Regions from separate parts of the Homo sapiens genome. Here all the other regions are reported to be linked to region 2. The links are microRNA targets in miRTarBase. Many come from high-throughput screens and were not tested one by one. Region 2 holds a microRNA gene; each other region holds the end of a gene's coding sequence. Distances are from middle to middle.
What was found. The annotated mature microRNA hsa-miR-4763-3p reads AGGCAGGGGCUGGUGCUGGGCGGG and lies in region 2 at 2,232-2,255, opposite strand. An mRNA with a match to its seed (bases 2 to 7 or 8) in the 3' UTR can be bound and repressed. Matches are read on the target gene's strand: a 7mer-m8 pairs with bases 2 to 8, a 7mer-A1 pairs with bases 2 to 7 and ends in A, and an 8mer does both.

Region 1: miRTarBase lists CRTAP as a target of hsa-miR-4763-3p. Seed matches in the 3' UTR shown: 7mer-A1 at 718-724.
Region 3: the mRNA of CLCN5 is a reported target of hsa-miR-4763-3p. The part of its 3' UTR that is shown has no 7-base or 8-base seed match.
Region 4: the mRNA of FZR1 is a reported target of hsa-miR-4763-3p. Seed matches in the 3' UTR shown: 7mer-m8 at 1,954-1,960 and 7mer-m8 at 1,976-1,982.
Region 5: miRTarBase lists ELFN2 as a target of hsa-miR-4763-3p. Seed matches in the 3' UTR shown: 7mer-m8 at 3,168-3,174, 7mer-m8 at 2,813-2,819, 8mer at 2,100-2,107 and 7mer-m8 at 1,421-1,427.

The regions. Positions count from the first base shown.
Region 1 is chr3:33,141,913-33,146,026 of GRCh38, forward strand. CRTAP (cartilage associated protein) reads left to right here. Exons shown (of 7, transcript NM_006371.5): 7 at 483-4,114. The coding sequence ends at 536. Among named protein-coding and RNA genes, the nearest start is that of CRTAP, 30 kb to the left of the region's middle.
Region 2 is chr22:46,111,786-46,115,878 of GRCh38, reverse strand. MIR4763 (microRNA 4763) reads right to left here and starts at 2,313; the gene lies at 2,222-2,313. LOC124905135 (collagen alpha-1(III) chain-like) reads right to left here. Exons shown (of 2, transcript XM_047441696.1): 2 at 1,951-4,093. It overlaps MIRLET7BHG (MIRLET7B host gene), which reads right to left. Exons shown (of 5, transcript NR_110479.1): 5 at 1,951-4,093. MIRLET7A3 (microRNA let-7a-3) reads right to left here and starts at 3,130; the gene lies at 3,057-3,130. It also overlaps MIRLET7B.
Region 3 is chrX:50,091,980-50,096,093 of GRCh38, forward strand. CLCN5 (chloride voltage-gated channel 5) reads left to right here. Exons shown (of 15, transcript NM_001127898.4): 15 at 150-4,114. The coding sequence ends at 240. Among named protein-coding and RNA genes, the nearest start is that of MIR502, 79 kb to the left of the region's middle.
Region 4 is chr19:3,534,527-3,538,638 of GRCh38, forward strand. FZR1 (fizzy and cell division cycle 20 related 1) reads left to right here. Exons shown (of 14, transcript NM_016263.4): 14 at 269-3,808. The coding sequence ends at 310. It also overlaps a transcript of MFSD12 not described here. Among named protein-coding and RNA genes, the nearest start is that of TEKTIP1, 2.6 kb to the right of the region's middle.
Region 5 is chr22:37,369,262-37,373,375 of GRCh38, forward strand. It overlaps ELFN2 (extracellular leucine rich repeat and fibronectin type III domain containing 2), which reads right to left. Exons shown (of 3, transcript NM_052906.5): 3 at 1-4,114. The coding sequence ends at 3,811. Among named protein-coding and RNA genes, the nearest start is that of ELFN2, 56 kb to the right of the region's middle.

The DNA.
Region 1 (4,114 bases), not on the chromosome of region 2:
ACTCAATCATTCATCCTTCAACACATGTATTGAGCACCTTCTGTGTGCTGGACTCTGGGGAAGAAAAATCAACCCAGTCCCCTGGTCCTTGAGAAGTTTGGGTTCTGGTGGTCAAGGCAGAAAGGGAACAGATAGAAAATGTTCCTGTGGGAGACCTGCACACATGAGAGGGGAGGAAGGGGAGTAGGCAGAGATGCACACAGGAGGGCCACTTAGTAGAGCTGTTCACAGGCTGGGCTGTCCGCCTCACACAGCATGTTGGCGGATCTCGCAGAGCACTTGATACCAAGTTCAAATGGAGTGGAAGCCGAGGTCCCCTCCACAGGGAGAAATCAGGTCCTCTGGGCCCCAGACCAGCAGAAAAAACCTGTTTCAGCCAAAGCAGACAGTGGTGATGGCCTCTCGGGATACTGTTTCTGCTCATCAGTACTTTTAAAAGTCCAATAGCCCATTTAATAAAGTTGTCCTGTTGTCTCTTACAGGGAGAAGTTGTGGAATATGTGGATGACCTCTTGGAACTGGAGGAGACCAGCTAGCCCACAGCAACCAAAGAGACTTCCTCTTGGCGTTCAGGAAACACAGATTCTTTGTCCTTTTCCCAACAGCCCAGGCTGTTGATACCTCAGAGCCTTCTCTTTACTCTCCAAAGTGAAAGGGAAGCCCCCGTCTCTCTAACTGCATGTCATCAGGGGTGAGCCTGCCTTTCCTATCTTCACACCTGCCACCTCATGTTCACACCTATCTTTCTCACCTTTTTTTTGAGATGGAGTCTCGCTCTCTTGCCCAGGCTGGAGTGCAATGGCACGTTCTCAGCTCACTGCAACCTCCGCCTCTTGGGTTCAAGCAATTCTGCTGCATCAGCCTCCCGAGTACCTGGGATTACAGGCATGTGCCACCACGCCCGGCTAATTTTGTATTTTTAGTAGAGACGGGGTTTTGCCATGTTGGCCAGGCTGGTCTCGAACTCTTGACTTCAGATGATCCATCTGCCTTGGCCTCCCACAGTGCTGGGATTACAGGCGTGAGCCACCATGCCCGGCCTCTTTCTCACCTTTACACCTGTCTTCTTATCCTCACATCTGTTTTCACACCTTCATCCCTGTCTTCCTCATGTTCACACTTGTCTTCCCCATGTTCATAGCTGCCTTTCTTACCATTTTGGTTTGAAGGGCAGTCTTCTCTGGCTTGTTTTTTTGTTTTTCCCAGAAAATCAGTATTATTTTTTAAATAAGAAAAACATTCCTAGAAGATGATAATTGTGAAAACCTCCTTTGGCTTATTTGCTTTTCCAGATTTTAGTCTCCTTTCTCCCCATCCGGGAAAGATGGTGGAAGACATAGGCTAAATTTCTCCAGCCTCACAATGGTCTTCACTTGGTCTGACTTGTACCAATTCTAGCACCCACTGAAAAACAAGTTGAGTAGAGAGTGTAGAGTGCAGAAATGTGGCTTTTGCCCCACTTTGCATCTCCAAAATTACAACGGTTGGCCGATCCCATTTGAGGACAATGCTTAGTTATAAGTCTCCGAGTTGGAAAAGGAAGAAAGCCAGAGCTGTCTAGTTTCATTCATTCTTTCAGTAAATATTTATTGAGTACCTACTGTGTGCTAGGCATTGACCTGGGAACTAGAGATACTTCACAGAATAACAGGGAAAGTTCCCTGTGCTCATGGAGCTTACATTCTACAGGGAGAAAGAGATAGCCAATACATAGGAATAAATATATACAAGGTATCATGTAGTGATAATTGCTGTGGAGAAAAATAAAGCAGGGGAGGGAGTAAGAAATCCTGGAGATGAGGCTGCAGTTTTAAATGGGGCCTCACTGGGAATGTGACGTTGAGCAGAGACGTTAGGGAAGTGGATCCTGGACAAGGCATTCCAGGCAGAGGAACAGGATGTGCACTGCCCCAAAGTGAGAACTTGCTCTACGTGGTCAGGAAAGAGCAGGGAGACCAAGCAGAGTCGTGGGCAGGGGTAGAATGGAAGGAGAGGCGGCTGGGGAGGACAGGTGGTGGAGGGCCTTGGCTTCTGCTAAGTGAGATGGGAACCACTGGAGGGTTTGAACAGAGGAGTGCCTTGATTGATTTATATTTTGCAAGGGTCATTCTAGCTGCCATATTGTGAAAAACTTTAGTGGACAAGGGCAGAAGGAAGAGGGAAGACCTGTTAGGAAGCTACTGCAAGGTTCCAGGCTTGGGCCTGGGCCACAGCAACAGCAGTGGTCAAATATCTAGATTTATTTTGAAAAGAGCCAATAGGATTTGCTGAGAGTTTGAATGTGGAGTGTAAGAGAAGGAAGAGTTAATGATGACATTAAGGTTTTTGGCCTGAATAGCAGGAAAGATGGAGTTACCAGTTACTGAAATAGGGAAGGATGGGCTGGGTAAGTATGGAATTTGGTGCAAAGCAGGCTGTCTGTGGTTGGAATGGGAGGTTCTGGCTGCAAATCAAAGTGGAGAGTTCTCTCAGGTCAGGTCTGCAGCAGAGCTCGAGACAGGGATCTGAATGCACTTGGTTTATTGTTGGGGGTGCTCTCAGAAGGAACCTGTGAAAGCCTTTATCAGTCATTTATTGGCTGTGAGAAGTTCTCTGGGAGTGTGGGTACATTTGAAGGCAAGTGACTTCAGTTGAGGGCAAGTCTCTGGAAAAGAGGCTGTAGGCATCTGGCAGCTACCATGCATGGTAGTGTGTTGGGGGTGGGGGTCCTGGGCACTGGCTGTGTGAAGGGATCTGGCAGGGCACCACAGCGCCCCCTACTGAACCATCAGCATGTCAGTGGCATTTAAAGCCATGCAGCTGGAGGGGCCACTGAGATTGTCTCTGAGTATTACTGAGAAGCAACAGAAAAGAGCCATGGATGGAGCCCTTGGGCTCTCTGGGAAATGGGAAATCAGCCAAAGGACTGAGAAGGAGTTACCTTAAGGTCAGAGAAAACCAAGAGAGTGTGGTGTTCTGGAAGCTGAGCTTTCTTTATTCAACCTCATTCCCTTCTCCAAATAAGCCACTTGTGTAGTTGGGCCCCTCCAGGGTTGAAGGCAAGAGGAGAAAGGCACAGCGTTTGGGAAACAAGACTTTTCCTGCAATAGCCTGGGAAGGAATAAAAGGATAGAGTGTTTGGGTTTTTGTGTAATGGTGGTTAATTGGGGTGGAACACTCACACGTTGTGCTTTTTCTGGGCTTCCCTTATCCCCCAGAACACTCTACCAACCTCGGGGAACTCGGGCACATCCTTCTGTTTCTCCTTCAGCTCTATCCTGCTTTCCTCATCCCTTCTGACACCACGTCCTCACTCACCTGCACAAGAATCCCTGCATCAGGTTCTCCTTTGAGGGTACCCACCCAGGACAGTCCCCTACCACTTCTGTCTTGGGCTGAAGTTGCCCACGTCCACAAAATCTGTACTCCCAGCGGGGGTGTTTGGCCCGAGGAGTCAGTGTTATTACTGGTGGATGCACCGTGTCCACAGCAGCCCCCAATCCCAGCGATGCGTCAGATCTTACGTGGCTTCCTGCTGGGGGAGATGGCCTTCACCCACGGGATGCCGGGTTCTCCTTTCTTTCCTCACCCCAACCTTTACTCCACCAGAGAAACTTCCTTTTGAACTCAGTGGGGAAGAGGGTGATGAGACAGGACTAGAAAGTAGTGGGGGACCCAGCGAGTGGACGCCCTGCTCCGGGATTCCTGAGTCTGTAAATAGTGTGCCCAGCAGCTGTGAACTCCCCTTATAGCCTCAGGCTGCAGTGTCCTTCCCAGCTGTGTGAGAAAATGAAAGCCGACGTCCACAGGGACCCAGGCAGGGTTGGGTGTTGTGACTCACTCCACCTCTGTGCCCTGCAGAGGTACTGTTGGGTCCTTGTCTTGTGAGCCTGGGGTGAGCTCTCTGTACATGTTGTTGTTCCACGTATGGGTTGACTTGGCATGCTGGGGGGTCCTCGTTCACTCTCTGAAGTTGGCCTCCTTTCACTGGGGATTGAAAAGCACCTCCACCCCTACCCTAGTGATGTCCCCTGAGGACCCGGGTGATAGTACAGTCAATATTGTCAGTACTTTGCTTTGATTGAAGGCTGTAGAGCTGAGTTACCAAAATTTCTATTTCAAAGGAAACCAAACC
Region 2 (4,093 bases):
CTCTGGCGGTACTGCCTGAGCTGGGAGGGGTCCGTGGCACGTGGCTCCCGCACAGCCCGGGAAGCTGGGGCCATCCTGAAGGTCCTTGGTCCCCGGCTTTCCTCCCTGGACTTTGTTCTCAAGGCAACTCATCCACATCCCTGGGCACTCTGATCTGGTATCAGCTTAAATCCTCATGGGCGCCCTGGGAGGTGGAAGCTACGGTGACCCCACTGCGAGATGGGAAACAGGTTTGGTGAGCAGAGTGACCAATCTAGGCCTGTCACCCCCAGAACTTCCACAGGCTGCCCTCATCCTATATTTTGGGCGAGTTTTGGCAACCCCATCTCTAGGGACGGCCAGTCAGCAGGGAAGGTTTTGGTCAGCTGGAGGGTAGGGAGGGAAGTGGGGTGAGCCAGGCATCACCTCCTCCAGGAAGCTGCCTCTGACTGCAGGGCTGGGTCCAGGGATCCTTAGGGTTCCCCAGCCCTTGGGCTGCTCCACTGTGATGTTGACCCCAACACATGGCCACTGTGTGTCCCTGGCAGCTCCCCGACCAGGCCTTGAGCTCTGCAGGGCCAAACCCTGCTCCAACTACACAGTATGGGGGCTGGGAGGAGAGGCTGGCTCCTCGGGACGTTCACAGTCTGTTCAGACACAGACAGGGGCTGCGGTGGCCAGAGATGGGTCTGAGCCGTGGACTGAGGGGTGGGGGAGCGGTGGTGAGCAGGAGAGTCCTGGTGGAGGTGAGCACAGGCATGAGGGAGGGGTGCTGGGAGGCAGTGCAGGCAAGGGTGTCAGCAGAGATCTGCTCCGGAGACAGAGGGGGCTGCTCTGAGACTCTGAGGCCTGGCAGTGGGAGTGGGGAGGGATGGAAATGGTGTTTAGAGGACAGAAGTGGCCAGATGTGGCTGCTGACTAATTATGGGGTGAAGAAGGGGATTTGGACAGTGCCCATGTGTCACCCACTCTGGCCCCAGAGGATGATGGGAGAAGGGACCATGGGGCACGTCACTCATCTCCAGCTGCAAACTCCTACGCAGCTGTCAAGACCCAGCTCAGATGGTCCCTGCTTTAGGAAGCCCTCCCTGCCCTTGGGCCCCTCCTCCACGTCCCTTTGCCCTTGGCCCACAGGGTGGCAGCAGCTCCGGGAGGGTAGGCAGGCCTGGGCTCTGAGGTGTTTGCCGTGCAGGACTGGCACAGATGGGTGTCAGGGTAGGGGTGCCGGTCTGCCCAGACGTGGCCATGCAGGGCTGGGGTTGCCTGCAGAACCAAGGCAGGCCAGGAGGGCACAGGGGGGAATCTGGGCCAAGATTGTGGCCTGGGTCAACAGGAGGGGCGAGGATGGGCACTTGGGTGGGGGAGGTGTGGGCCCAGCTGTATCAGCCCCTCCCCACCAGGGGCTCTCGGTGCTGGGCCAGGCATGAACAAGCCCACCCCACATGCCCAGGGCGGGATCACTGGGCCCAGCCTACGGCAGCTGCTAGACGAGGGCCTGAGGCCTCCCAGGAGAATGGGTGCACTTTTGGGATGGCAGTCTGTCAGAGGAATTACGGGTGCCCTGGAAACTGTCCTGAGGGAGGACGGAAGGACAGGCACGTCCAGACTTTGGTCAAGGCACTTAAGGCACGGAGGTGGCCTCAGGAGCCAGGACTTGGCAGTGCTCTGAGCTGCTGACCTGGGGCCTTGGTGGCTGCCCCGTGGGGACCTCTCCACCGGGCCTGGGTCCCGGTGTTCAGCCCGCCTGGCTCAAAGGCAGCACGAGAGGGCAGAGAACGGGCTGGGCCTGGGATCCTGAGCCCAGGGTACAGCACGGAGCCAACTGAGGACTCTGGAGGCACCGGGAGGCGTGAGCAGACAAGTCTCATGACCTGGAACAGCTCGTGGCCAGGGGCCTCCACACTGTCCCGCAGCAGACGCGCCCCAGAGCCCAGTCCCTGGGCTTCCAGAATGAAAGGGGCCAGTTCCAAGTTCATGGTCAGAACAGCTTTATTGAATCTAGCTCCCAGATGCCCACCCAGCTTCGGCTCAGGCCCCCTGCAGGTCACTGAGGTGGGGGGCAGCCCTCCCGTGGGGTCGTGTCACTGAGGTAGGGGGCGGCCCTCCCATGGGGTCGTGTCACTGGGCTCCTCAGGGAAGGCAGTAGGTTGTATAGTTATCTTCCGAGGGGCAACATCACTGCCCTGAAACCACACAACCTACTACCTCACCCCGCCAGGCCCGGCCTTGCACTGCGGGAGGGCCCGCCGCCCCCCGCCCAGCACCAGCCCCTGCCTGGCGGTCCTCAGTCACCAGAGCAGGAGGGCTGGGCAGGCGCAGGGCAGGAGGGACAGGGGAGATGGCACCCCAGGAAGGGGCAGCTGCTGCTGGCTGGTCTTGGGAAGTCCCTGGCTCTCTGGGCCTCAGTTTCCCCAGGTACAGAGGAGCCACTGTCTGCCTTCAGATTGTGCCATGTGGGACCCAGTGTATGCAGAGCTGTTCCTCTCACTTCCTGCTCAGGAAAGGTGCCTTGGCCTCCCTTCCTCCACAGGCAGAGGCCCTGCCACTGAGCTGGCCAGGCTGGGGCACGTGCTGGGAACCTGGGGTGATGGGCAACGCCAATACTCGCAGCCCTGTGACCTCCAAACGTCTCGGCCACCCCTGGCCCCACGGTGCCTTCTCCTGGTGCTCAGTGGAGGGTACGGCTCAGGGCCACCCATGAGCCTGGGCCTGATGGCGGGGGGAGTGTTGGGGAGTGTTGGGAGACAGAGGTCAGACAAACAGCTGCGTGGATCGCCTCTCTCAGTGCGGCTGGGGCAGAGGGTGGGGTCGGCTCAGCTCTCCTCTGCCCTCGATGCTCCACACTGCATCTCCTTCCATCCTCATTTGCCTCCATTTTACAGAGGAGGAAACTGAGACCCAGAGAGATCAGGGGCCTGTCCAAGGTCACACAGCAAGTGGCACCTAGGCCTGTCAGACTTCTCAGTGTAGGCGGCCCCTGCCCCCGACTGCTGCCAAGGCTGCCCCCAAACCTGGCCCTGCCCGCTCCCAGCCAGGGTTCCAGACGCTCTGTCCACCGCAGATATTACAGCCACTTCAGGAAAGACAGTAGATTGTATAGTTATCCCATAGCAGGGCAGAGCCCCAAACTATACAACCTACTACCTCACCCCAAAGGGCAGTCGGTCTTGGTGCCGATGGGACTCCGTGGCTTCCAGAGGCACCTCCTGGGGACGCGGGAGGAAAGAGGGCTGAGGAGAACAGGGGCTCGAGGCTCGGCAGGCCACACGCACCAAGGGCACAGGGATTCTGGCGGGCAGGCGCGGTGGGCGCAGGGGGCTGGGACGCCGAAACCCTGGGAGTGGGGACATTGTGGCCAGCACCAGCAGGGACGGGAGCCTGCAGGAAACCACCAACCAGAGAGGGACGAGGAAGAGAGAAAGGAGGAGGGAGGGAAAGCCCTGGCGGCATTTTGCGACGCTGTCACAGGCAGCCGGCTCCCTCTCATCTGGACAGGAGTGGCCATAATGTCCCCAAGGAACTCTGCACTGGAGACCCTAGGAGGAGGGCTGTCATCTGTCGAAGGCCAGCAAGACACAGGCATGCGAGTGCCCACCCTGCTCGGCCCCCTCCCTCCCCGCACAGCGCCACCAGAAGCAGCACTCGTGGCCCCCAGGCTGGCTGAGTAGCGGCTTCACGGGCGTGCCGTCTCCTCCCACTGGGCAGGCAGGCATCCCTCCCCAGGGGCCCTGGTTCTGGCCCTGCTGTGCAGGCTGGCCTGAGCTGACCGCACTGCAGGAGGTGGCGGGAAGGTTCTTTCCTTCCTTGAGGGAAGTGGCCTCTAGGGGAGAGCAGCTGGGGGGGTAGTCACAGACCCTCAGGTCCACCCAGGGTCCAGTGCCTGTCCCTGCGGGTGCTGGCACACTCAGTGCCCTAGCTTGGGACGCACAGGGCTGGGACAGAGTGTAGCATGAGGATGACACTGAGAGGGCCTCGGGGCTCCCCTAGCAGGGGAACGTGGCGAGAGACGGGCCTCCCTAAGCCCCGCCTATCCTGGGCCTGGTGCAGGGTCAGCCTCAACAAATGCTAATTGTGGCTACCACCTTCCTGGGGAAAAGCTGAGGGGGCAGATACG
Region 3 (4,114 bases), not on the chromosome of region 2:
ATGTCCTACTCCTGTGATCTCATACTGAAAGGGCAGCTAGTGATCAAAGACAAAGTTGAAAAGGACTGAGGAGGACAAGTATCACCTTTGGGAATGCTATTTTAACTACAGATTTATTTTTGTTTTTTTGTATTGTGTTTGTCTTTTAGGCGATTGCTTGGAATCATTACCAAAAAGGATGTGTTAAAGCATATAGCACAGATGGCGAACCAAGATCCTGATTCCATTCTCTTCAACTAGAATCATAGAGTTCTGGATGTAAAGCGGGAAGGACATTACAGACCATGGATATGTTGTATTAACTGGGTACCCAAAACACATTTTCCATATTTGGATGGTGAAGTCACATTAGTGTGTTGTCTCTTTCCTACAAGTTAACCAGTTGCACTACATAATCTCTGGAAATTAATTTTCTCTTTAGGAGAAATTATAGTTAGGCTTCCATGATGTTACATTAGGAAGATATCATGAAAGAATAAATAAGATTGCTATGGTTTAATTATATTTGCTTTTTAAAAGATTTTTTTAACTTAAAAAGTAGTTAGCCAATATGCAATCACTGAAAACTATGCAAGAGAAATTCCAACCGTCCTGACCTATAACCTGTAGGAAACCGACGAAAAAGTCACTCTTTTGGGATCTAACTGTTGTTACTGGAAGACGAAGTGTAAACTAAGGGGCTTTGCTTTTCAAACCAGAGAAAGGAAAGCCAGAAGGAAAAGAGTAATGGTATTTTCTAGACTGTGAAGATTCAGTTCAAATGTTATCCTTGTTCCTGTTACAATATTTAGCATTATTAGTTTGTTATGTGTGTATGTTTATGTTAATTTTAATTTCTGATTATAAGACAATGCTGCTTTGGTTAATCTCTTCTAAATGAATTTAGAGAGATTGACTTTTATAGCTTGCTTGTTGCTGGTACTCTTTTGAAGTGCACAAAGATAAGTTATAGAGCTTTCTCCTTGTCTGCAAAAACGGTAATTTTCCAGGTGGCATTTGTTAGCTGGTAGACAAGGACTTTGCCGTGAATTTGTTAGTAGCAAGGAATGATTTCTTCCAGCTTCCTTGAAATGAATAATTAGTAAACTTCTAAGCAAAGTCAATGACTAGGAGTTTCACATGTTTGTGAGGTCCTAACTAATTCTCTTACCCAGATGCCACCTCCATGAATGATGGTGCTTTAGGCTTCTGGAATATGTAAAAACAGCAAAGGGAACCAAGTCTAGACTGCATACTGGTAAACCAGGGAAGACTCAGAACTGCATATGCATCCTCATGCATTCCTTTGTAAAGACCACCAGTACTAAAATAACTGGACACTCATTGTACCTCCCAGCGATAAGTATGTGTAACAGGCCAGTGTGTTGTCCCCATGATCATGAATTAGGCTTGGGATGCTTCCAAATATATTCAAGGTGTTGGAACAGGATAGGCAGCTGTGACTCCCTCAAGAGTCCTTAGAATTCTAAATAAAATGCAGAGCCATCCTAAGACACAGGGGTATGGACAAGGCCTGGTGACACCAAAGGTGCTTGTATCCAATTGAAAAGGTGCCTGTCTCAATTTCATACCACCTTTATTGCAGTTAAAAAAAAATCACACTCTGGGGACACTTGGTGGAATTACAGAGCCACCATCATCATTCCAACCACTATTTCATTTTCTGTAGTTTTACCTGTGTGCAATTACTCCCCCTCCATTCTGTTCCACTTCTTACTCCTTAGTACCAAATCCTCTGTTTGGGATTGAGCGCTGCTCCTGGTTAATCATTCCTACTACAAAAAAAAATAACTCCCAGGGCTAGTTAAATTGTAAACCAAGGCTCAGCAGTCTCACAACACATGGACCAGAGGTGACACACAGCCATTTCCTTTGCCATGTGGCCCAGTTGCTGCTGCCATGCCTCCATTTCCACACTGGATGCCTACGGCAGTGAGATTTCACTGCCGGGGTAAGAGTTCAGCCTGGATGATTTTATAGCTCTGTTCCTAGCACTTCTCATCATCCTTCCAGCCCAGAATCAGCGGTCATTCTGCATATTCCCACCAACCCTCTACCCCCAAACACTTCAGTGTACCTCATTTTAAGAGTTGCTGATCCCTGATTCTAGGACGTTTTTACCCATAGTTCTTGTCTTTCCAAAATCTGAAATTCTTTTTTTTGCTCAGAACTGGGTAGCCAAGGGTTATTTTATTTTTATCTTTAAAATAATCAAGGCAGTCGCTAGAGTTTCTCCTTGTGAATAGATCACTCTAGCATTTTAATGAAAAAGAAAAAAATCTTTCTGGGGTATGTTGTATCATAGTAATGGCTCAGTAACCACATATTTTGTCCTTTCCATGTCACTGATTCCTTCATATGAGACTATTTGGCTTGACTACCCTGTATATTGTGTAGAAATCAAAGTTCTTATCTGTACATTTCTGGTCCAATACCTGTCTTATTAGTTGTCCTTCCCCACTAAAGTTTGCAAAACAGAAAATGTTACTATTTCTGGTATTTAATGACAATGAAAGGTTTGGTCATATTTCATAGTGCAGTAGCGATAAGGAGGGTGTCTCAAGTTTGCTTTTGTGTTTCTTCTAGGCTTTGTTCTTGATTTTAGACAGATGAGCCAGTGTTAAGGTGCTACTTCAGAGAATAAATTAGAGAAATCAGATAACACTGTGCCAAGGTATACTTTGTAGATGCTAAGCACCGATTGGCCCTCCAGAGAATGACAATATCCCTTTGATACCTCACTCCTGATCAATCTCATTCATTAACCTCAGCTTCTCAGGAATCCTTGTAGCTTGTATGCTAGAAGTAGCTATGGTATATGGTATCCACTATATGTCCAGTCCTATGGTTTGGCTCAAAGGTTGGCTAATTGCAGCTAGAGCTCTCAACTGCTAGCTCAGCACCTTGACATTTGAAGTTTCTTGTCTTGAGGAGAAGGAAAATGTTCTTTCTGCCATTGCCACTTTAACAGTTGGACATGCTTAAGCAACAAATACAGCCAGTATAGGGAGGACTGTCAGTAGCATCAAATGGCCACATACCTCAATGGCAAAAGACTAGATGGTTTGTGATTTAAAAATTAATGAGTCGAGATGAGACTATTTTGGTATTAAATGAGAAAATTGCCTAACACAAGGGAAGGGTTTACAAAAGAATGCCAATTAGTGTTTCAACAGAGTTAGGATTTTCCAAGTAAGAGTAGCTGGTAGCCATCCAGCCATAAAAGGAACGAGAGTCTATAGATTTGTAAAAGTAAAACTGCTATATTTTGTATCTTCAAATCTTCAATATAAAGAATTTAAAGAACCTGAAACAGTTAATGCATGATTCGTTATATTGGAGGGAAAAAGCAGGGGACTGATAATACAAAATAATGGCAACTTTAAAGATCATTTCTACGTGGATGTTTGGTTAGAAACATATTCCAATGCTCTCCTCTTTCTCTGGCCACAGCATCCTGGCTCAGCCCAGCTGTGGAGTAGAGGTGGTAAGATCCACAGAACAGATATCCTCTGGTAGATAAGCTGACATTGATGATACTTTGAATTTACCAGCTGGTGAAGCAAACGATTAATTTGTGATTGAACTGAAAAGCAGTTGAATTGTTTTGACACCAGAGGCTGAATCTAAACCCTTTACAGGAAGAGCAGAGCATACTATACATTTCTTAGCAGATCTTCAATTCTGTTTGAACATGATGAAGTAACCAGGGTTTAGTGAGATCTAAGGCCGTGAAGTAATTCACAACCAAGATCTTATGAACGCATTCAGATGTGAGGGGGGCAAATATGTTTTCAAAAACTTAGTGTGCAATAGAGTCCATTATAGAAATTAACCACTGCTATATGTTTTAAGTAGTTCAATCACCTGTTGTGGTTCAGTCTTGATTATTGTTTATTTTGTTAGGTGATAAGTAGGAAGATGCACTTGTTATCCCACACTATCTCTTGTTTTGTTTTGTTTTGTTTTTAAATAATGAACAGTGCAATCTTTGAACTTGAGTTTTTAATAATGATAGCAAAGACAATGGTGAGAACTTGAAACAGCCAGCATATTTTATATTGCCAAAGTACTTACTGATGACTGACCACACTGTCTTGTGAGGAACTGGGTC
Region 4 (4,112 bases), not on the chromosome of region 2:
GTATCAGCGCCACTCGCCCCCGCCCCAGCCTGTCCCAGGGTCGTCCCTGTCCCCACTGTCCTCGGGCGTACCCTCCTCTGGGTTCCCCCACTTCCGAGCTTCCCTCACCTCAAATTCTGGGTCATGTGTCGGGGCAGTGTGGCAGGCCGAGGCTGAACTGGCACCTCCCAGCCCCTCAGGACCAAGCCCCAAAGCCTTGGGGACCCTCCAGGCAGCTTCCTCCCTGGGCCTGCGGCTCAGCGCATCTGCCATCCCCATGTGTCTGCAGGAGTCTGTGTCTGTGCTCAACCTCTTCACCAGGATCCGGTAAACCTGCCGGGCAGGACCGTGCCACACCAGCTGTCCAGAGTCGGAGGACCCCAGCTCCTCAGCTTGCATGGACTCTGCCTTCCCAGCGCTTGTCCCCCGAGGAAGGCGGCTGGGCGGGCGGGGAGCTGGGCCTGGAGGATCCTGGAGTCTCATTAAATGCCTGATTGTGAACCATGTCCACCAGTATCTGGGGTGGGCACGTGGTCGGGGACCCTCAGCAGCAGGGGCTCTGTCTCCCTTCCCAAAGGGCGAGAACCACATTGGACGGTCCCGGCTCAGACCGTCTGTACTCAGAGCGACGGATGCCCCCTGGGACCCTCACTGCCTCCGTCTGTTCATCACCTGCCCACCGGAGCCGCATGCTCTTCCTGGAACTGCCCACGTCTGCACAGAACAGACCACCAGACGCCAGGGCTGATTGGTGGGGGCCTGAGACCCCGGTTGCCCATTCATGGCTGCACCCCACCATGTCAAACCCAAGACCAGCCCCAAGGCCAGACCAAGGCATGTAGGCCTGGGCAGGTGGCTCGGGGCCACTGGCGGAGCCAGCCTGTGGATCCAAGAGACAGTCCCCACCTGGGCTTCACGGCATCCTTGCAGCCACCTCTGCTGTCACTGCTCGAAGCAGCAGTCTCTCTGGAAGCATCTGTGTCATGGCCATCGCCCGGCGGTCAGTGGGCTTCAGATGGGCCTGTGCATCCTGGCCAAGCGTCACCCTCACACTGGAGGAGGATGTCTGCTCTGGACTTATCACCCCAGGAGAACTGAACCCGGACCTGCTCACTGCCCTGGCTGGAGAGGAGCACAACAGATGCCACGTCTTCGTGCATTCGCCAACACGTGCCCTCACAGGGCCAGCGTCCTCCTTCCCTGCGCAAGACTTGCGTCCCCCATGCCTGCTGGGTGGCTGGGTCCTGTGGAGGCCAGCAGCGGTGTGGCCCCCGCCCCCAGGCTGCCTGTGTCTTCACCTGTCCTGTCCACCAGCGCCAACAGCCGTGGGGAAGCCAAGGAGACCCAAGGGGTCCAGGAGGTGGGCGCCCTCCATCCTTCGAGAAGCTTCCCAGGCTCCTCTGCTTCTCTGTCTCATGCTCCCAGGCTGCACAGCAGGCAGGGAGGGAGGCAAGGCAGGGGAGTGGGGCCTGAGCTGAGCACTGCCCCCTCACCCCCCCACCACCCCTTCCCATTTCATCGGTGGGGACGTGGAGAGGGTGGGGCGGGCTGGGGTTGGAGGGTCCCACCCACCACCCTGCTGTGCTTGGGAACCCCCACTCCCCACTCCCCACATCCCAACATCCTGGTGTCTGTCCCCAGTGGGGTTGGCGTGCATGTGTACATATGTATTTGTGACTTTTCTTTGGATTTGTTTTGTGTTTTTGTTGACTAGTCCTGGAAATGTTTGAGGCTAGACGGGGAGGGGCCAGGACCCACCCACTGCTCCTGGGGGATGAGGTCCTGGTTTTAAAGCCCCGTCATTTCAAGCGGGTCGATCTTCCACATTCACTGGAGAGACTCTCCCCACCTCTGTCTGGGTGGGGCGCGGACCCCTCACTGTGCGCCTGTGCAGGGGGTGCTGGTGCACGTGGCAGTGTGGATTTCCAGTGGTCACGGTCTTACTGTTTCAAGGTTTTTAAATAAGAAAACCAACCCTGCCTTCGCCCATGCCCGCCCCTGCCCGCAGTTGCCAAAGAGCCGCCTTGTCGCTGTGGGCGTCAGGGCTTGGCTGGCTCAGTGCACAACCCACAGTGGCCTTCAGAGGCTCCTCCTGGGACTGGGAACCGCCGCAGGGCCAGGCGGACGGCGTGAGGTTTGTGTTGGGGCTGGTTCTGCCCATGCTAGGGGGTGGGGGAGCTCCCAGGACAGACCAGCCTTGTTTCTCATGTAATGCAGTGACGCTGTCATTAAACACGTGGATTCATGTGTGGCCGGGACTGGCTGGCTCTAGGTCCCCGGCTCGGGTGGGGTCACACGGTCCTGCCCTAGAGTCCCCATCTGGCCCTGGAGCTGCAGAAGCAGCTTCTGAGGGGCTTCCCAGGCCTGCATTTCACAGATGGGGAGCTCAGCCCTCGAAGGCCGCAGAGACGCCTCCCAGGCCCGTCTGCCAGGGCGCCGGCCACAATCCTGCAGGGCCAAGGACTGGACTCCAGGCAAGTCCCTGCGCTCCAGCTGGACGGCCCTGTTCCAGGGAGGAGGTGCTCGGTTGACACCATCAGGGAGGGAGGGTGGGCACTGCTGGGCTGAGTTCACCCCCAGGGCTGGCCAGATGGGGCCAGGAGGGACAGAGCAAGGGGGGTGAAGGCCGTGGTGGGAGGGTCCCATGATGATGGGCCAGGGCTCGTGTAGAAATGGGGGAATTGGTTCCCCATGGCCCAGGACAGCTGAGAGGAGGTGGAGGGGCCCCAGGGGAGTGTACGTCAGGCTTTGCGGGGCACGGGGGCCACTCAGCAGCGCTGGGGCAGGTGCCTCTGCTGTCAGCTCCACCCGACAGGCAGACGAAGGCCAGTGGGGCCATCGCTTCCTGGGGCGACCCTGGCAGTGGTTGGGAGACGCCCAGATGGAGGGGGAGGCTGACCAAGGGCCCCGCAGGGCGGGCTGCAACTTTTCTGTTGATCCTGGAATGTAGCTGGTGCAGTGAGAGGGAAAGAGAATTGAAAAACTCAGGCTGCCATAGGTTCTGCGATGAGAGGTGCAGGAGGCAGGAGCCTGGCCCAGGGGGTGCTGGTGCCTCCCCGGGGTCTGGGCGGAGAGAACAGGAGGAATGGCTGGGAAGTGGCTGAGGGAGCCAGGAGGCCGGGGGGCCGGGGGCTGCAGGGGAGGCTGTGGGGGTCCTGGCAGCCAGGAGGCCCCAGGTGGTTTTGAGGCTCGCTCTTGCGCGGTGCCTGAGAAGAGGGTGAAGGAGCTGGGGCAGGCCCCATCCTGGGCATTGGAGATGATGAAACCGAGCAGACCTGGCCCATGTGGAGCTGGCATGGGGGACACAGCCCAGAGACAGAGAAGCTTATGAGGAAGTGAGGAGGTGGCGTCACAAGGGTGGGGAGGGGGCCTTGGGGAAGGGCGGCCTTGGATCAGAGGCTCACCACAAGCCTGGCATTTCAGCCAGGGCTGGAGAAGGCAGGGACGCCTGGGTGAGAGGCAAAGGGCACAGCCATGCAAAGGCCCTGGGGCAGGACGGCACCTGGTATGCGGGAGGAACAGAGTGAGGAGAGGAGGGCAGGGCGTGCAGGGCCTTGTGGGCCTCAGGGAGGACTTGGGCACCTACGCCGAGGGAGTGGAGCTCCTGGGTGCGTGTCCAGATGGGAAAGGCAGGGTCGTATCTGTGGGGACCTGACAAGGGCAGGGGAAGCGGAGACCAGGGTGCAGGCTCCGCCCCCACCCAAGGCCGGGCCCAGCCAGAGGAGGGGCAGGGCAGGGCAGGAGGTTTCTGGATGTTTGTTGGGTTTGGTTTGGTTTTGTTTTGTTTTGTTTATTGTGGTAAAATACAAAATCTACCGTCTTACAGTGAGGTGGCGTTCAGTACCTTCACCACGCCGTGCAGCCATCCCATCTGATTCCAGAACATTCTCATCACCCAGAAGGCAGCCCTGTCCCCATTATGTCACCTAGTCACCCCCAGGTCCCCCTCCCCAGTCCCGGCACCCACGAATCCTCTCCCTGATTCTGTGGATTGGTCTGTCCTGGACATTTCATAGAAGTGGGATCACAGCGTACCCTTCTGTGTCTGGTGTCTCTCACTGAGCGTGACATCCTCAAGGTGCATCCGCACTGTGGCCTGGGTCAGAGCTTCGCACCTCCTTGTGGCTGAGTCT
Region 5 (4,114 bases), 8.7 Mb from region 2:
CTCTCGGCCAGCCTGATACTCCCCACTGCTGCTGCCCCAGCTGCCTCCCGGGGACGATCCAGGCCTGGCCTTCCCAAGCAGGTCTCTTTACTCCCACCCTCCTCGCTCCCCTGACAGCCCTTTTCCCAGACCTACCCAGACACGGGCTCCCCAGCCTGGACACAGGCTGCTCCCACAGGCCTCCTGCACTGCCTCAGGAGGGGAGCCCAGGTGAGGGATTCTTTGGTGGGCAGAGAGAGACTCTTCCTGCCGCGGGGAAAAGCAAGGCCGGGACCCGTGACGAGGTTTCCCCACCAACCAGGCTTTCTTGCCTTCATGCCAGACCTCTGTGTTTTGCTACTGGAAGGCCATAAGCTCCAACAGAGGGTTAGCTGCACCTGCTGTGCCCTCCCAGGAAGGAGCAGACCCATTGTGCTACTTCCCAGAAACAGCTTCAGAGGAGATTCTCCAACAGAGGCAGGCAAGCCCAGGTGTGACCTTGTTCCGGCCCAAGGCAGGAGGCCTCCCCGCAGAGGTCCAGGGCGTGGCACCCACACATCCCTCGCTCCACCGGGCCTCCATCTCCCCTCCCTCCCTGTGGCCCCCCCTGCCCTCTTTTCCTGGTGTCTGCCCTGCTGGCCTGCCCCAGACCACAGCCCAGCTCCACCATGCTCATCATCATCACAAACCCAGACCTTGGATGGCAACATTTTGTGAATACTTCCCTCCCGCCTGGGAAAAACTCATCCTGAGCAGGACGTGGGACACAGATGCAGGCCAGCCTCCGGGTGGGCTCTCCCCAAGCTGAGCAGTTGGGGCTCTGGCCTGGCTGGGAGGCCAGAGACCCGAGTCTTAGACCCCGCTCTGCCTCACAAAGAACCACATGAACTGGGTCTTCAAGGCCAGTTCCCCTCCTGGATCATCAGAGTCCTGCTCTTTGGAAGGGCCCCTGTCCCTGCAGTCAGAGAGTCTGAGGTTTCCTAAATATCTTCACGCAGAAAGGATGGGGAAATGGCAAGCGCAGGCCCCTAACTCCTGCTGCTGGGAACCCTCCCTGGGGCCCAGCCCAGGCGTGCTCCTTCTTCCCACGGGTTCCTTTCTCAAAGCCCCCACCCTCTCCCTGAAGCCCCCCACGAAGCCCCAAGCTCCTGGCCTCCTACACTCAGCAGTGTGACTGATCCTCCACCCCAGCTGGCCAGCCAATTCACCAGGCCCGTCTGGGAGCCCTGACTTCCTCATCTACAAAACGGGAACAAGCGGGACGGACAGACAGTCCCTTCCACCGGGACAAGAGCCCTTGAGGAGGCTTCCCTGGGGCTGCCCTCCCTGGCATGGAGGAGGGGAAGGAACTGGGGACAAGGGAGGTGGCAGTGGAGAGAGGGAGGGAGGAAGGGAGGTGGCACATGGGCCCAATGCTCAGAAACACAGGAGGTGGGTGTGGGGCAGGGCTGTGTCTTGGTGGCACCTGTTTTGGGTCTGTTTTTGCAGAGCTGACCCCTCCCTGGGTTTCAAGAGCTGCTCGTCAGATCACAACAGACAGAATGTGGGAAAGCAGGGCATCAGAGAGGGGGCGGGGGAGTCTGGACAAACTGGCACATACACGACAGATGTTTGCTCAGAAAAATACAGTAAAATCGTCATGCAAATATAACAGGGAGTCTGCTTCCTCACACCCCTGGCTTCTCTGCCTGCTTGCTTTTCTCAGTTGTGCCAAGGGGGTGTGAGGAGGGGTTGGGGGGCAGGTTTTGGGGGCCGGGGGAGGAGGTCTGCTCCGCGTATCCATGCCGCCCCCTCCCCTCCTCGCCCCAGGAGAACAGTCTTTTCTTTGCAAATGTCACCCTCAAAGTGAGCCCTGGGCTTCGTTAACCCCAAAGTTGGTGTGAGAGAGGTACTCAGCTGAGCCCGAGCCTCCTAGCCCTCTGCTGTCCTCCCTCACCCCCTGCCCCCAGCAGGAAGGTCGTTGGGGTCCCCAGGGGATGGCACTAGCTTTCCTGGTCAGAGCCCCTGCCCACCAACAGTGCCGGTCTTGGACCCATTCCAGTGCCTACCCTCGCCCCTCAGTCACACTCCCCAAATCTCAGGAAACCCATGTGGGCCACAGGCCCTAGACTGGGGGTCTCTGGCAGGGGCGTGGGGAGAGCCGGGGCCCCCCAAGCTGAGGTGGGTGGCAGCCAAGCGACATGTTGCTAGGCGGGCAAAGCTGCTAGTAGAGGCGTCCCCACACCCCGCTGGGCCAGCTCCCACCCAGAGGTGAAGGATGATGGACTCCGGCCCATCAGCATCCTGACTGGTCAAGACCCCAGTCTCAGGACCGCAGATTTGCCTCCCAAAAGAGCTGGCCCCAGGAGCTGCTGCCAGGCTGGCCCTCCCTCACCACCCTCTGCCACCGCCTACATGGACAGAGAACCCCAGAGCCCAACGGTCACTCTGGGCACCAACTGCCAGGCACAGGGTTACCATGGTGACAGAGGCTGGCTGGGAGGGGCTGGGGCGCCACGAACCCAGCCTGCTCCTCAACCCTCTCTCGGGTGGGGGCCTCACTGTTTGTGCTTTGTTTGATGTTGGGTGGGGGGGTCAGAAAGAGGGAAGTGGCCATTGCCACGGAAACATGGGAGCCCCTCTGGCCAGGGGGCCAGGCCTGGATGAGCAGCCCAGAGGGGATGGGTGAGAAAGCCCTCCTTCCCCGGGTGGGCGGCTGAGATAGGAGCCGAGATCCCACGATGGGGTCGGGCAGGTGGGGACACAGGCCATGGGGACAGGCAGGAAGTCCCCCATGACAGCTCCTCCCTGCAGCCCTCCAGGCATCACAGTGCACCGCTGCCCTTCTGCGGTGGGCAGGGGTCTCGGAGGACCAGAGAAGCTGGGGCCGGGAGCCTGCACCTGAGACGTCCTGGGAGCTGGCCTGCCCGCCACACGCCCCACTCTTCCCAGGCCACGTGGAAGACACTTGAAGTGGGCTGGTGGAATGTCGCCCTGCCTCGGCTCCTTTCCCGTCAACAGGACCCTCTCCCTTCTCCCGGGTGCCGGCATAGGGGTCAAAAGCCCCCCAGGATTCTGAATCACAGCTGCACACTCTGGGGGCACTGCCATGTGGCTTTCTAGGAAGAAAAAGCACCTGCCTGATTCCCAAGTCCCTCAGCCCCAAGGGACCACAGCTTCGGAAAGGGATGTGGGGTGGGCACAGGGCGGGCAGGGGTCCACAAGAGAGCTGCAGGGGGTTCCGGGACAGCACTGGGCTGGGAAGTTGGGGGACTTGAGGCTAAGCTGCTGTGTGACCCTGGGGTTGTCAACTCCCTTCTCTGGGCCTCAGTTTCCCCCCCTCTCTAAAGTGGAAGGAGACATTGCCCGATGTCTAATGCTAAATCTGCAGGTGACTTGACTCCCAGCTTGGGAAGGGACCCTCTCCCTGCCCTAGAGGGGCTTCAGTCCCTCTCTACTCCAGCTTTCTTGACCCCCACACCTGTTTCTAGCCCCAGACCCCCCAGACCCCACACCCTCTCTTGGCTTCCTTCCTCCCCCCGCCAGCCCCCCGGCCCTGCACACCCCAGCAGAGTCCCTGGGCAGCACAGTAAAGACGACTGGTTTCGGTATCAGTTTGTAAACTTTAAGGAAAATGTGTCTCTGTTTTCCTGTCCGTTATTGTCGGATGTTGGTTTGTTCACAGTCGGGTGGTGGTCAGGTGTGTGTGTGCGTGCGTGCGTGCGGGTCTGCATGTGCGTCCTCTCCTGGGCCTTGGCCCCCGAGTCTGCTCCCCGCCCTGGCCGCCTGGACCCTTCCCCCAAAAGGCCCCCAGCCCTCTGGCTCCGACCTCACCAGGGAGGAAGGGGGGGGTCACAGCTTCTGCTGGGCGGAGACCCCCTTCCAGTAATCAAGGATGTCATGCAGATCCTCGTCCTTGGCGAACTGGACCTTCTTGCGCAGGGCGTGACCGGCGGCCATGTACACCTCCTCCCGGTGGTGCTTCTTGTAGGGCCGGAAGCGCTCCCAGATCTTGTGCGTGCTCTCGGATGAGTACTCGGGGCTGGAGGAGTACCCTGAGTAGTAGTGTCTGGGGGAGAGCTGCGAGTAGGTGGAGTCACGCTTGGAGCGGGTCAGCGGCTTGAGGAAGGACACGCGCTGGCTCAGGCTGTCGGCA